Regions from separate parts of the Homo sapiens genome. Here region 1 is linked to region 2. A link means that fine-mapping ties the variant in region 2 to the expression of a gene that starts in the linked region. Tissue or cell type: whole blood. Region 2 holds a variant in brackets; the other region holds the start of a gene. All regions are shown on one strand. Distances are between the middles of the regions.

Evidence for each region. PIP is the estimated chance that this variant, and not a neighbour inherited with it, causes the effect.
Region 1: it holds the start of UHRF2, and the variant in region 2 is fine-mapped to the expression of UHRF2 in whole blood (TOPMed, PIP 0.96).

The regions. Positions count from the first base shown.
Region 1 is chr9:6,409,741-6,417,887 of GRCh38, reverse strand. It overlaps UHRF2 (ubiquitin like with PHD and ring finger domains 2), which reads right to left and starts at 4,689. Exons shown (of 16, transcript NM_152896.3): 1 at 4,245-4,689. The coding sequence starts at 4,397. RefSeq lists silencers at 3,872-4,301, 4,372-4,551, 4,832-4,971.
Region 2 is chr9:6,496,715-6,504,714 of GRCh38, reverse strand. UHRF2 (ubiquitin like with PHD and ring finger domains 2) reads right to left here. Exons shown (of 16, transcript NM_152896.3): 11 at 7,355-7,517; 12 at 6,557-6,697; 13 at 4,784-4,880; 14 at 4,006-4,163; 15 at 24-122. Among named protein-coding and RNA genes, the nearest start is that of UHRF2, 88 kb to the right of the region's middle. The variant C/A (reference allele first, on the strand shown) is at 4,723.

The DNA of each region.
Region 1 (8,147 bases), 87 kb after region 2:
CTACAGTCAGCTCCTGGTTAGTTTCTACTAAATGACGGTCAGGAGTAAATACAAACTGTTTCAACTGGTGCTTTTTAAAATTTGATTTGACAGGAAAAAATGTCGTAAGAGCACCATGTCTAAGCATATCACGGCATGAGACCCTATAAGTTACATCCACAGTAACATATAACCACCTTTCCTCATGCTTGCTATGACAGGCTTTTTAAACCCAGATTATCCACTCCTTCGCTAATTCATAGGTACTCCTCCAGTCTTCCTACAATAGTGACCATTTATCTACCGCAATAACAAGTTCCACACAACTTTATTCCACAAAGCTTCACATATTATGAAGAGCTGTGAAGTGTTGAGATGATTTACTTGAAAAGTACCGAAGTTCTTCCACATTTAATGAAAGTGAAGATTGAAAGTTATCTCTGACACTCAAATTAAGCTCTAAGTAGGGAAAAAAGGAAGCGGTCATTTAGAAATCACAAACATCTGTGAGTCAGAAGCATGTAACTTAGGTCCATCAATGTCTCAAAAGCAAATGTTTGAGAACTGCCATACTCGAAGATGGAGATGCAGTATTTACAATACTTAAGAAGCAAAAATGGTTAGGATTTTTTGTCAGACCACTCTTGAAATTTTACTGAGTTGAAAGAAGAAACTCCAGGTAACAAGAGGAACTGCAACAATGATGCAAGGGAATACTAGAAAGCAAATGCCAAGTGGAAGTGGCTGAGAGGGCAGTGGGAAGTCATTCCCAAGCAACTACTGACTAGGGATGCCAGTGAAGGGCAAAACAACTTTCACGTATCCATCACATATTATATATGTGTGTATTATATATGTTATATACATCATATATAATATATACATAGATATTCCTTTAAATAGGCAAGTACTTTTATATTCTGTGTGAAAACCAAGTGGGAGAGGCAACTTTTTTCTTCAACTATAGTTCATGCCCCACATTGTTATCTATTTTAAGACCACCTCTATAGTGGTAAGGAGTGAAAGAATGACGAGAGAGAATCCTTTAAAATAGGAAAAGCTCTGGATTCTCAAAAGATTTAGGCCGGGCGCGGTGGCTCACGCCTGTAATCCCAGCACTTTGGGAGGCCGAGGCGGGCGGATCACGAGGTCAGGAGATCGAGACCACGGTGAAACCCCGTCTCTACTAAAAATACAAAAAATCAGCCGGGCGCAGTGGCGGGCGCCTGTAGTCCCAGCTACTCGGGAGGCTGAGGCAGAATGGCGTGAACCCGGAAGGCGGAGCTTGCAGTGAGCGGAGATCGCGCCACAGCACTCCCGCCTGGGCGACAGAACGAGACTCCGTCTCAAAAAAAAAAAAAAAAAAAAAAAAAGATTTAGAGATCCACCAACATAATCTCTTCCTTAAAAAGACCCAATCCCCCGCGTGCCTCAAACTCAACTTCCCAGATAAGAATGTTCACAGCATGTTATCCTACTCTAACCAAAACTTATAGCCCTGAATTGCAGGTCTCCATTTTGACCCTCAAATGTGGAGTCAAGGCTGGGCACGGTAGCTTACGCCTGTAATCCCAGCACTTTGGGAAGCCGAGGTGGGCGCATCACCTGAGGTCCTGTCCTAGATAGAGACCATCGTGTCCAAAATGGTGAAACCTCGTCTCTACTAAAATACAAAAAATTTGCCGGGAGTGGTGGCGCACGCCTGTAGTCCCAGCTACTTGGGAGACTGCGGCAGGGGAATCGCTTGAACCCGGGAGGCAGAGGTTGTAGTAAGCCGAGATCGCGCCACTCCAGCCTGGCGACAGGGCAAGACTCCGGCTTAAAAAAAAAACAAAAACAACAACAAAAAAAGTGGAGTCAATTAACACTGCCTTCTCCAACTTCACCTACATACAGATCACCTGGAGATCTTGTTAAAATACAGATTCTGCTTCAGTAGGTCAGCTTCAGTAGGTCTGGCGTGAGGATTTCAGGTAAAGCTAATGCTGCTGGTCCTGAGAATCCAGGGACCATACTTTGAATAGTAAGAGACTAGTGGGAGACTATCTATCAACATTCATTTTCTAAACTCTGGTGTTATCAGAATCTCCCGTGGGGTCTTGTTAAATTCAACTACTTGCAGTTCTGGGGTGAGCTGAACATCTATAATAAATATCCACAAGCGATTCTGATACATACCAAAGATTAAAAGCTGGAGCCTAACATACGAATGGAGTATGGGGGGCGGGTACCACTTAAATAAAAATAAATGTATTGTCTACAATTTATGACATTTTTCACTACGTGGCAGTAAAGTATTTTGAAGTAGGGGTACCTTTTTCCAATGAGGACATGGTATTTTACAGGACGGGGACTCTCTGTGATGCCATTCCAGTAGTTACCTGCTACAGGCTGGCTACCTCATCTGTGGAGCTCCAGAGACCACGAAAGATAACACTCATTGCCATAGCTACTTGTCAGCGCATAAGAAAGTGAACACACAGCTGGTACCAATGACCTTCCTTTTCTGTTTCCAAGTTAATGGCTGGCACCAAAGGTCTATTCCTCTACCCTACTGGTTTATCACTGGGCTGAAGAAACCCAAGTAGTGAATTACCCACTAGGACCCTGGAAGAGGAAGTACAACGGTTATCCTCAGTTTTCCCTGGAATCTGGAATGAGCTTCCTAGTTTACTGAAAGTCTACTTTGTTGCCTTGAATTTAACCCAATCCCATATGTGATAATTATTTTAGCATATTTGATAATAAAGATTTTAGGAGTGTTGCCCAAGAACATCCTTCATTTCTATCTCTGGTGCTGAAATCACCAGTGTCCTAGGAATTCATGTACTATTTGTCCCCAGCTAGAAAATAAAATGCATCAAACGATTACATGCTTTTTCACTTGTGATCAAAAGGAAACGGTATCAGCCACTTGAGGCACAGCAAAGCAAATCTATGTAGTATTTAACAAGTGTACAATTATTTCAAAAGCAAAGCTTACAACTAAATACCTGTTTTTACAAGTCAAACACTAAGAAGTCAGTACAAAACTGGCTGCAAACACAAATCAAAGGTGCTATAACATTATTTTAAAGAGAGAAGGAAAGGGGAAAAAAAAGCTCTCTCCTTCCCAAAGTGTAATTTGTTACTATGAAATTTCTGGACAGTCTTCGAAGACTAAGCCTGTGAAGGGGAGGAAAATATTCCTTTTAAGTAGTTTGCAACTGTAGGCTACTTCTACCAAATCAAAGAGCTACACTTATTTAAAACCACAGGATTGGAGCCAAACTGTGGTCTATCAACTCAGGATGCCAACTTTTTAGTGTATTAACAACAACATGAAGACAAAGAAAAATACGATGGGTCTGAGTGGCTAGGGATATAGATTGTAAGAGACTTGTGGAATAGGAAAAAAACTTAGACTGGCCAGACCATAAAAATACCAGAGATGCCCACAGACAGCCTTCAAGTATGCACCGCTGGCTATGCTGCAGTGCTATGCTTAAAGCGTGAACGACATGAGTATTAGAAGGCGAGAAGTAAGAAAAGCAAACAGTCTTACACTCCTTTTCACTTCGGGAATAAAACTCTTGGCTTATATAGGGCATTCGTAAACCCGGCCCCCGGTTAAACCGACAGTTTCTTCATGCCCAGGTCTCTAACCTCCCTCGAGACATTCCAAACCTAGGAAAGGCGGCGAGGGAGAGGGACCAGAAGTTCTGGAAACCCTTCGAATCTTCAGTTTGCGCGAATCCTACCACAGTCAGGAAGCAGAGTTAGGGTTCTTATTCTTGAGAGCTCAATGCCCGAGTTTCCCCTGTTTGAGAGCCGAAGACGCGGAAGAGCCGCGGAAGCCAGGCGAACGCTCAGCCGGGTTAGCCAGCTCTCCGGGTCTCCCGCGCGGTGGCATGGCCGCCAGAGCCCTCTGCCCTCCCCGCCCTCTGGGGGCCCCAGGCCCCGCCGAGCGCGGGAAGCGAGGGACCTGGGCACCCAGTGCCTACGGCCGCTGTCCTACCAAATACAAACGGCGAGATATTTGCGCTCCGGACGCCCTCACTTCTGACCCCGCGCGGCGCACCTCCAGTTGGGGCTGGCAGGGACCCACTCCCCACCATTCGGCGGGACTGGGCCCCGCACCCCGCGCCTCGCGGGGGCTGCCCACCCGCAGCGGAGCCAGGTGAGCCCTGCGCGCGCGGCGCACAGAGCCCTCGGACCGGTGCGTCCAGAGGAGCCCAGCTGTTCCGGCCCCCAGCCTCGCTAGGGGCGCGGCGGGCGCGCCTCACCTGCTTGCCCCGGTAGAAGAGGCGCTGGCATTCGGGCCGCACGTCGAACAGCGCCCACACCCGCTCGCGCAGCTCCTCAATCGTGGCTTTGCGAGACACGTCCTCAATGGTGCACGTCTTGGAGCCATCAATGGTGCGAACCTGTATCCACATCTTGGCGCCTAGAGAGGAACCGGTCCCCTTTGTCTCCCCCTGAGCTCTGGGCGCCGCGCCCCGCCCGGCCCGCGCCGCTTTCCCTGCGGCTCGGGCCCTCAGCGGCAGGCGGGCGAGCGCGCCCACCGGACCGACCGGACGCCGGGCCCGACAGGCGGCGACGACTCTCAGCGCGCGCGCCCGACTAGCCGACTTGAGGAGAGACGACCGGAACCACTCTGAGGCGCTGCCGCAGACACCGCCTCAAAGATAGGAAGAGGCCATGTCTGCGCCGCGCAGAGTGTTTACTTATAGAGCTGGAGCTCCCACATGGAGGTCACGGCGCCAAGCCGGATCTCGCGAGATCCACGCCGGGCTCCGCCTTAAAGAGGAAGCGGCCCGGGAGAGGGTTACAGACCCGAGGGAACGAAAATGGGCAGGCGCGGAGAGGGCGGGTCGGAGGGGCGGGGCTACCAAAAGCCGTTACTTGCCCCACCGCCTGCACCTGGCCACTGGGCACGCCCTCTAGCCTTTGGGTTTCGGAAGATTGCGCGGCTACCACATCGGTTGCCGTTTTGAGGCCTCGTTTCAGAGCTGAGGGGGCGGGTGCCTCCTCAGGCTTAGCGGATATGGTTCTTTGGTCTCAAAAACACACCAAAAATAAGAAACCCTGGCGTGCACTTGTATAATCCTGGAAAGGGGGCGCGGGTGGGTGCGGCCTAAACTTCCGAGAAAGAACTGAAGGAAATGTGTGCGCTCCACCGCGCTCAACAGGAAAGCTCCCGCCACGCGGCCTGGCGGGTCGGGTCGCCCGGGAAAGGCCCCGGGGGCCCTCCTGCTTCGCGAACACGTTTCCCGCCTGGCCGCAATGCTACTTTCGCGCGGAAACCCACTTCCGAGGGTTTCCCGTCGCCTGGCGGAGGCGGCAGCTCCAGGCCTATCCTCAGGCCGCGGGTCCCGCTGGGATCGCCCTCTCTGGCTTGCAGCGCTCCCAGCCGGCCCTCCGGCCTTGGAGAAGTCGGGGCAGCTGCCCGAAAGGCCGCTCTCTAACTCCGGACATTTCCGTTCGTAGACTTTCCGCGTTAGGGGTGCCTTTGGCCTAAGGGATTGCGGGTTTGCGGGAAACAGTTTTAAATAATGCAGAGCTACGCGCCTCCGAAGAAAGAACTCCAAAGACCCTACTAGGATTAAACCCTCAGAAGTGGGCCCAACGCAGCACTACCTAACAGGGCTTCCCCCACCCCCCACCCCGCCTTCTTAATCCTTCCCTGCTACAGCTGGGGAGTCGGGGTGGGGGTGAGTGGGTTTATTTTATTTTATTTATTATGTATGTATGTATGTATGTATGTATGTATTTAGAGACGGAATCTCTCTCTGTCGCCCAGGCTGGAGTGCAGTGGCGCGATCTCGGCTCACTGCAAGCTCCGCCTCCCGGGTTCACGCCATTCTCCTGCCTCAGCCTCCCTGGGGTAGCTGGGACTACAGGCGCCCGCCACCGCGCCCGGCTAATAGTCTCGATCTCCTGACCTCGTGATCCACCCGCCTCGGCCTTCCAAAGTGCTGGGATTACAGGCGTGAGCCACCGCGCCCGGCCAAGTGGGTTTATTTTAAATGAAAATATGTCTTCTCAAGAAGGGAGAGAGGATATAAACGTAAACAAAACAAGACAACTTGGACTTCACATTTGCCAAAATCGGTAACTTAAATATTCACATAGGTGCTAATTATTCCCATAAAGGTACAGTACCATTTTTTTGTAATAAACTAATAAACAGCTAAAATAATTACAAGCACAGACAAATCCAGTAGTATATCATGAAAAAGAAGAGAAAGGCCGGGCGCAGTGGCTCAGGCCTGTAATCTCAGCGCTTTGGGAGGCCGAGGTGGGCGGATCACTTGAGGTCAGGAGTTCCAGACCAGCCTGGCCAACATGGTGAAACCCCATCTCTACTAAAAATATTAAAAAACTAGCTGAGCATGGTGGCAGTTGCCTGTAGTCCCAGCTACTCGGGAGGCTGAGGCAGGAGAATTGCTTGAACCCGGGAGGCGGAGGCTGCAGTGAGCTGAGATCACGCCACTGCACTACAGCCTGGGCGATAGAGTGAGACTCCATCTCAAAAAAAAAGAGAAAAAAAAGATGGCCCAACACAGAAGAGACAGAAAAAATTAACTGCACATACATATTTTGGGTTTCTGCCCCTGTGAAAATTTCAGTCACCTAGAACCTCTAAATATAATTCACTTGTCTACCCCTATTTTAATTAAAGCAAATATTGAGTATTTATTACATATGTAAATGAGATGATATTTAGGTTGGTGCAAAAGTCATTGGGGTTTTGCCATTTCTTTCGGTGGCAAAAACCACAATTACATTTGCACCAACCAAATCTACCTAAAGCACACTTACTACCTACCTCAATAAGGCGAAACTATTTATTATAAGGTTATGCTATTTACTATTATAACGTTATACTATGGCTTTGTGGAGTTACGTTAGGATTTTTTTTTTAGTTACCTCTCACAAAACAAATTACAATCTAGTTGAGATAAGATTTAACAAAAATAAAATATTAAAGAATAACTTAGTACTAAACACTGATGTTGGCGCAAACCATGATTACAGATGAGAGGAGAACTAGAATGATTAAGAAAAGGGGAACTAGAATGATCTGGAAGCTTAAAAATAACTGTACAACTTGACACGAGTTATGTGATACATTGTAGTAGGAGGCAGCATTTAAATGTTCAGTTCATGGATTGAGATAGACCGGAATTATAATCCCAGTTTTACTGCTTGCTTAAAAATGTGATCTTGTACAAATAACATCCTCAATTTCCTCAATGTAAAATGGTGCTTGAAATAACCTAATGATTGTAAAGTGGTTTGCATACTATCCCTTAGTAGTACACAATAAATTATTTTAGTACTGCTGTTATGGAGAAGATTTAGATAAACAGAGTATGCCCAAAGAGGAAAGAGTGCTTAAACAAAGACAAAAAAGTGTGCATTTTTTACAGGTCAGAAGAGACTGCAAATCAGAGAATGGTTGACTAAATAGAAAAGGGCAGTGTGTGAAAATTAACATTCAAAGCAGATGATTTTTGTGGGCCCCAGGGAAAAACTAAGATTTTTAAGGAGTAGATGGATGTAATTAAATATGCATTTGAAATAATAGCAAAAGGAATCTGGACAGATGCCTTAGGGAAAAAGTAAGGAAGAGGGACATGAGGGGAGAACTTATTGTCAGAAAGTTTACAGAGGAGGCAATTGTGTCAGTTTTGGTGAAATTAGTGGCGGTAAGTAGGAGAGGAGAGGATGTATTCCAGAGTATTCTAGAAAATTGAGCCTATAAAACTTGTAGGATTGTGGATATAAAGGATGAGGAAAATGGAATGTTGAGAACAGTTCCCAAGTTTCTAGCTTAGGAGATTTAAATTGATGGCTCGAGCAGATGGTGATGCTCTGAACTTGTAGAGGAGGCAAGTCGGGAAAATACAATGAGTTCCAAATGAGCTGTGTTGCATTTGAAATGCATCCAAAATATAGCATCTGTCTAGCTGGAGATGTCTAACTGACCACTGGAAATAGAAGTTTGACGTATTGAAGAGAAATAGGAAAGTTCTTAAAGAGGGACTTTTTAAGACCTCCTGTACACACTCTTATGAGATTTATCTTTCTTAATGTGATGGGGCTTTAATGGAGAACTGCAGGGGTGGGGAGGGGATAAGATGACTGTCTCAAAATTAGGTATCTACTGAGACTGTATAGGA
Region 2 (8,000 bases):
AGTGAGGAAGGAATTCTACTTACTTTACAGACATTGTGGAAGCACTCAGTTGTCACAGGCTGGTAAACTAGCTCCTGACAGCAAACGCACATAAAAGATTGTTCCAATTTTTTCAGAAAATTCTAGAACAGTATCCAAGGATAAGGAAAGAAAAGTTAGCAGTTCATAATATGCTAATAAAATTCATCTACTGTGTATTTCAAAACAGCTAGTAGAGAATAATTCAAATGTTCCCAGCATAAAAGATGTTTATAGTGATGAACATTCCAATTACCCTGATTTATTATATGTTATATGAACATATCAAAATTTCACATGTATCCCAAAATATATCCATCTATTATTTAGCAATAAAAATGTTTCAGTCACATTTAATGTCTTCTATTTAGAGGCCGGGCGCGGTGGCTCACGCCTGTAATCCCAGCACTTTGGGAGGCCGAGGCAGGCGGATCACAAGGTCAGGAGATCGACACCATCCTGGCTAACACAGTGAAACCCCATCGCTACTAAAAATACAAAAAATTATCTGGGCGTGGCGGCGTGTGCCTGTAGTCCCAGCTGCTGGGGAGGCTGAGGCAGGAGAATGGAGTGAACCAAGAAGGCGGAGCTTGCAGTGAGCTGAGATCACGCCACTGCACTCCAGCCTGGGTGACAGAGCGAGACTCGGTCTTAAAAAAAAAAAAAAAAAAAAAAAAAAAAGTCTTCTATTTAAAAAAATCAAGTACTCTTGATTTTTAACTACCTGAGAAGAGCAAAGTTATATAAAGAAATCCCATTCCATACACATTAGTTTTAAATCAGAGTATTGGGTAGGAAAAGTTGCAAAGTCAATATATGATGTTAAAAAGTCAATGTCCCCCTAAATGTCACATTCCAGGGACAAACTATTTTTCACTTAAAAAATAAAAAAATCATGGGCAACGTGTCTCAAGGTCATTACATACTGACTGCCTTTTTTCAAAAAGCTGTTTTGCACAGTATTCCAAAGTATGAACATGTATTATCTATTCAATCTTCTGCTGTTATAAAACTTGAATATTTGTCTTTAGGAGCTTAAAAAAAAACACTAGGAAACAATACTCTGTAGTATCTAATACCATAAACAAAACATTTATTTTCCTAGGATTATTCTGTCATATTTTACCTCAATCCTAAAATCCCATACCTTCCTGATGCTAATGTTTATTTACAGTAGGAGGAAATTATAAAAAGTAGAGCCACCTAATGTAAACATGATCAAATGGATACCCTGTATTCTTCAAAAGCCATTACTGGCTCCATTTCATCTTGGCTGGTTTTTTTTTTTAAGCTAGAAGGAAAACTAGTTTTTTTCCTAGTCATAAAGATAATCCTTCAGTTATTTTAGGTAGTAAGGGAGTATATTTCATATTTATTTTTTATATTAATAGAAAAAGTTAAGGCCAAGCATGGTGGTTCACACATGTAATCCCAGTACTCTGGGAGGCTGAGGCGGGTGGATCATTTGAGGTCAGGAGTGCTAGACCAACCTGGCCAACATGGCCAAAACCGTCTCTAGAAAAAAATACAAGAAATTAGCCGGGCGTGGTGGCGGGTGCCTGCAATCCCAGCTACTTGGGAGGCTGAGGCAGGAGAATCACTTGAACCCAGGAGGTGGAGGTTGCAGTGAGCTGAGATCATGCTACTGTACTTCAGCCTGGGAGACAGACCACAACTCCGTCTCAAAAACAAACAAACAAACAAAAAAACCTTACAAGTTTCAAATTTAAAAATTGAATGTCACATTTCAAAAGATGTCTCATATTAACTGATTTATGAACATGGATCATTAAAGTCAAATATATTACAGACAAAGTATTATAAACACATTTTTAAAATATGGCAATTATGTGGAGATGCTGGAAACTTTATAACAGGTACTCTCTCCCTAACAAACACCTTTGTTAATGACCAATATTTAACCTGGTACTTCCACAGTTCCTATAATACGGGTATATCTAATACAGGTATTTTGAGTTACAGGTAGCTACAATGTGCTAGGCACTCATCTACAGTGGTAATAAAAAGGCAGTCTGTGCTCTCCTGGAACTTACGTTCCTACAGCAGAGTAAACAAACAAAAACTGTTTCAGATAGTAATAACTGATGAAACAGAGCAAACTGACTCATGCCTATAAACCCAGCTACTTAGGAGGCTGAAGCGGGAGGATTGCCTGAGCCCAGGTGTTTGAGATCAGTCTGGGCAACATAGTAACCCCATCTGTTTGGACTTTTTAAACTAAATTTTAAAGAGTTGCCATTTTAGAAAGGGTAGTTTGGGAAGATCTCTCTGAGGAATCTATTTATACAGACTTAAAGGATATGAAAGAGTGAGACACATGAAAAGAGAATTCCAGTCAGAGTAACAGTATGTATGTAAAGGCCCAGGGGTATCAAGACGTCGAGCATGTTTAAATAAAACAGTGACCACTGCAGTCAAGCAATCTGGGCACAAGAGTACCAGTTTAAGAGGAGACTACAGATGTAGGTAGGGCTGCTGATCACAGGGCCTTTGGAAGGAGTTTGGACATAAATATATATACACATATGTATTTATTTAAAGTCACTGTTGGCTAACACCTGTTTTTTTCTGGCTTAATAAATGTGTTCCTGGCTTATCTGAAGAGAATGGGCATGAAACTTGTCCAGGGCAATAGTACATAACATCCAAAGTAATCACTAGCAGCAAGGTCACAATAATATGACCTAGGAAGGTCAGAATCTGTCCCAGTGGGACACTACCCATAGGGAAGACAACTTTCACACCACTCAGGTGGCTTTTTCCTCCATCTGTAATTGCTTCTCTCCCACCTACAGTGGAAACTCACCTCAGTTATCACTAACAAGCCCTATCTTTCCCAATCAGAGAATAATTAGGCTGATTAACAACTGCTTCCTGTATCTTAATTTCCTATAAGTGAAAATGAGTGTGACCTAACAAAGTCAGACTCTGCTTACGCCTGGGTGTCTTGGCTAAAATACAAGTAAACACTTCTCAAAGTGTAATCACTTTCCCCTGTCCTCTAAACATGTAAGCTTCATTTTGCCAAAGATAACTCAATGTATCACATTTATAGACAAAGGAAGTAACGATTCCAATATAAATCCAAATATTTGATAAATTTCAGCATTTCTAAAAGTTTAAAAATCATATTTAAAAAATTCTTCCTTAATAATAATGACTATTTCTCACAAAGGAAACTCTGTAGAGTTTTTGTGTTGCTGCTTTCAGCCTAGATAGAAAAGACATACAGACATGGGGGCACATCAACACTTTGGAGAGAAAGAAAACAGAAAAGTAATTGTATTATAAATGACAAGGGGTCAATATTTAATAGAAGATTCAAATTTATAAGTAAAATTAAAGACACAATAAGTGAGGAAAGAATGAAGAGATAGTTCATATTTGAAGACTCCAACTTTAGGGATTTGATAAGAAGGGCTTGTTTGCAAAACACAGCTTAACACAAAGCCCACACATTAATTAACTGTGATTCCTTTTTACTTTAAAATTATGTGATTAATTTAAAGATTAAGAAAAAATGAAAATTTAGAAACATAAAATACTTAATAGATAATCTGGTTAATTTTACCACTTAGTTTAACATGTAGGTTTTGAAAATTGTGCTGAACTGCTTAAGACTTATGCGGTTAGGTAACTTTGAACTGTAACAAAAACTTTCGTGGTGATTTTTAGATTAAAATGACGATGTTTCACAAACTGAAAATTCTTCTGAGGAACAGTACCTCAAAGTAAAGTAACTTTGGGCATAGAGAAGTCAAAATCCAGCATCTAAGAGGTTTAAAGTAAATTTAGGCGCATGTATATGTGTTGCCTCAGATTATTTCTGAAAGGTAGTGGCACTGGATTAGAAAACCGGGTAGAAGGATGAAGTTTTGACTGATGTGTGAAAAACAGACTTCATGAGACAATTATTTATCATTTGTTAATATCAGAATGTTATTATTTAAAAAAATCTTCACATACTGGTCCTTCCACAAGATGTGAAAGCACTTCATCCCACAGCTTCTGGTTTTGACAATCTTCTCTGATGAGATGTTGCTGTTGAGGAGTTAGTTGAAAAGCCTCAATTGCTTCTGCTGAATCTGATGCTTTGTACACTTTGGAGGCACTTGGACAGTCATCTAGATTTATTTTAAAAATGTATCAGCAGACTTACAAGTGGTTCTAAGCAGAACTATGAAACAAAAGAGTTAACTGGCACAAGTAATGTTTAGCAGAAAGATAACCAACATAAAACAGCATCTAATTTCCCCTAAAATTTAGGATACTGTTATTTCCTGCTATTTGGCTCTGACACTATTAAACAAAAGATCCATCTTCTACCATGCCCCCCCAGCCAAATCCTTTGCTTTCATTTAAGTCTCAATTTATTTTCTTAATATTTCTCTTTATTAAAAAGTATGTTGGCTGGATGCAGTGGCTTCTGCCTGTAATCCCAGCACTTTAGGAGGCTGAGGCAGGAGGATCCCTTCAGCCCAGGAGTTCAAGACCAGCTTGGGCAACATGGAGAAACCCCATCTTTACAAAAGATACAAAAATTAGCCAGGTGTGGTGGTGTACAGCCGTGGGCTACTTCAGAGGTTGAGGTAGGTGGATCGCTTGAGCCCAGGAGGTCAAGGCTACAGTGAGCCAAGATCTTTCCACTGCACTCCAGCCTGGGTGACAAGAGTGAGACCCCGT[C/A]TCAACAACAACAACAACAAAAGTATGTTATTATTATTTATATTTTGCAATCATTACCTACCATCTGAAATTGGCCTTTTTGTGGTTCCACTGGGCTGCTTCTTTGACTGTCCTTTAGGCTTCTTCCCTTCTTTATCTGAAGGGTAACCTGCTGGATACTGATGGGGGGGGAGGAGGGAGAGTACAATGCAGATTTAAGCTTCACAGAGAAGGGGGGTTTAGATCCTGGTGAGAAATTAAAAGGGAGGGGAAGACTACACGTTCCCCAAACTGAAAAACTTTACATAAAAGAAACAGACATTTAAAGGAAAAGAATTCAAAGCACAGACAACTATTAAAATCCCAATTTATGTAGCTGTGACTGCTAAGAGATTCCATTTTATAATACACTGATCTTAAGTTTCAGATCTAAGAAAGGTAAGTCTTCAGGAGTTGTGATTAGATTTCCTTAAAGTTTAAGGAAAGTAGAATACAGAAATGAAGGTAAATGAGAACCAATCATAGAGCACAACAGATAGAAAGCAGATGGATTGGATCACAGTAAATTGTGGAGTTGATCTAAAAAAATATCAAGAACATTAAGGGTCAAACTTCTCATCTCCTAAAGTTAGCGGCAGGAGCTTTTACAAGACCTAAAGCAACTAAATTACTAAATCCTCCACCAGCTAAGAGTTAGATTTGAAGTAATACATTCTATCTATCATCCTTATGTTTCAATGGCTACCTTCTTTGAGGGGGTGGGTGGGGTGGGAGAAGCATGCTTTGTAATAACAGTCATGCTTAAAGCACTGTATGTTTCAGGCCTCAATGACTATTACTCATCATAGCAGATGGGCTCACATGCTTCTGCTCACAGTTTCAAATATAACCTATCTAGAACAATGCTCTCAACAGGGACATCTGAAAAATCTTCTGAAAGTGAATTTGACAAAGTTATTTTTATATTAAAAAGAATTATTTTAGTAGTTGTTTTAGCAGTTGATGGCCTTATTTTCAACAATCAATTCTATGAGTTTAAAAAGACAACAAAAACAGAAACAGACTTGCATTAGAAGACACACACTCACCTGCCTGGGTGGTCAGACACTTGCCCATAGTTCAGCCCCTACACATGCAGTGTGGGCAGAGCCAGGGGAAATGATAAAGCTGGCAGTTTTTACGGGAAGCACAACAATGGGGAATGATGGGAGATGAACTCAAACCATGCTCTGAAGTCAGTGTCAGGGACAAATTCTAGGGTATACAGGCAGTGAAGGGATTAATGCAGCCATACCATCCACTATGCACACAAAATCAACGAAGTCTTTATGGGTTAACAGCTGAGCATGGGCAAAGGGGAAAAAAGACAAAGCACTAAAGGTGGTGGCAGGGCAGGGAAGCAGCTTTGCGGGGGAAGAGAGAAAAGGGGTGAGGAAAAGTGAGAAAGGGAGAAGGCAGACCACTCTTATAAAGCCACCTCCCCACCCTTCCCCTACCAGAGAGACACCCCCTGTGCCCTCTAGGATAAATGTCCTTTTCCAGGGCCTCCTATACCTAAATTTTATGAATCCCTTTCCCTCACACTTCAAGTCATTTCCAAATTGATTTGGAAATATTTTACTTTTAATTAACAGGTCCAACTTTTCCCAAGCACAACCCTTGGTCCCAGGGCAGTCTGACATCTAGGATACTACCTTTTCTCTTCTTTTCCTCTGTCTATTTGCATGATCTTATTCCTCACCCCTTATAGTCCACCAGTCAATTGCTGTGGGTTATATCCAGTGTTAAGGCATGTAGATAGAAGAGGTGTATATTTTTATGAACACACAGGCAGCCTAGACAAATGTAATCTAACCTGTAAACGTAGACATAATCTCCTTGACCGTTCTATTCCTTCAGAGGTCCAAGGAGCAGGTTCAACATCATCTCTTCTTAAAAGATAGCGCCAAACCAAGAATCCATGGCTTGATGAAATCTCTGGCCAGTATTTCACCACCTAAATCACAATATTTCAGTGCCAGTTTGAGATTTAAAATTTAGACTTATTCATCACATTAGTGGTATCAAAATAATCTTTGCCAGAACTAAATGCAACTTCTGAATATTCTGCTTTGCTGTAAGGACAGTAAGTCAAGAATATTCACTAAAACAGTTTTGACCTTAATTCCTATTACAGTACTTCCCATGAGGACAGACTGCTATAAATTTAATAGAGTAACAAGATTATGCTAATTAACAGAATTTTGTATCGTAAAGATGGCAGCAAATGCCTCTTTTTAAACAAAGAATGAAAATCTATTACTATGATGTGCTGCTTTGAAAATCTATTACAACTAAAATCATTCAAAAAGATATATAAAAATCAAGTTATACAACAGCCAGTTACTTAAATGGCTTTATTATAGAGAACATACACTTACATTTTAAAAAAAAAAACCTTAACCCAACTCTGCCCCTAGGAACTCGAAATAAGCCTTAAAAGTAAAGTGCTGAAGTTAAGAGTTTGCTTTATGCATCTGTTCAATTTCCAGAAAAAGTAGCAATATAAGATGGCTACTGTTTCCTCGAGCCCACCCACAGTAGTTCCTTGCAACAACCCTGCCTTGAAAGCCCAGGAAGAATGACAAACAAGATGTCATGCCAGATAGAGCACCTTATAAATGCCATCATATCTGTTGCCTTCTTCAGGAGCATATTTGCTGATCTTCCTCCCTTTAAAACTGCGTATCACTCTGACTGGCTTACCAGCTCTCCAATTCCGAGACTCTGCTCCAATTTTATCATCCAATGGAGCATCACAGTTTAGGGCCAATGCCCTAAAAAACAACAAAGAAGTCTTTATACCATGTAATTTTTCTTCAAGTACACAATCGAGTCATTAGCTCAATTAAAAGGTGAATTATACCTTACCTGATGGTTAAGATTCTATGATTCTTTCCATATTATTCCAGATAATAGGATTATGCTTTCCCCCACCAGCAGAGAAGACAAATCAGTTTTCTGATGTCACCCCCAAGCCAGGGGATTGGTTCTCAGATAGCCTGTAGGGTTCTTCTGAAAGTAATAACATCTGTGCCACGTATAATAGAAAACAACTAGAAATACATGGAATTTTTCTTTAAATAACGTTTGTTGGGGGAAGGGAGAACGTTGGAAAACTAAAGCAAATGATTTTTTCAATAGTGATCTTTGGTAAGGGTGTAAGGTGAATTGCTGGAATAATGTAGAAAGAAATCCAGAAATATAAATTTGTCAGCAAGGTACAAATGACCTTCCCAGGTCTACTTTCCACATTCCAG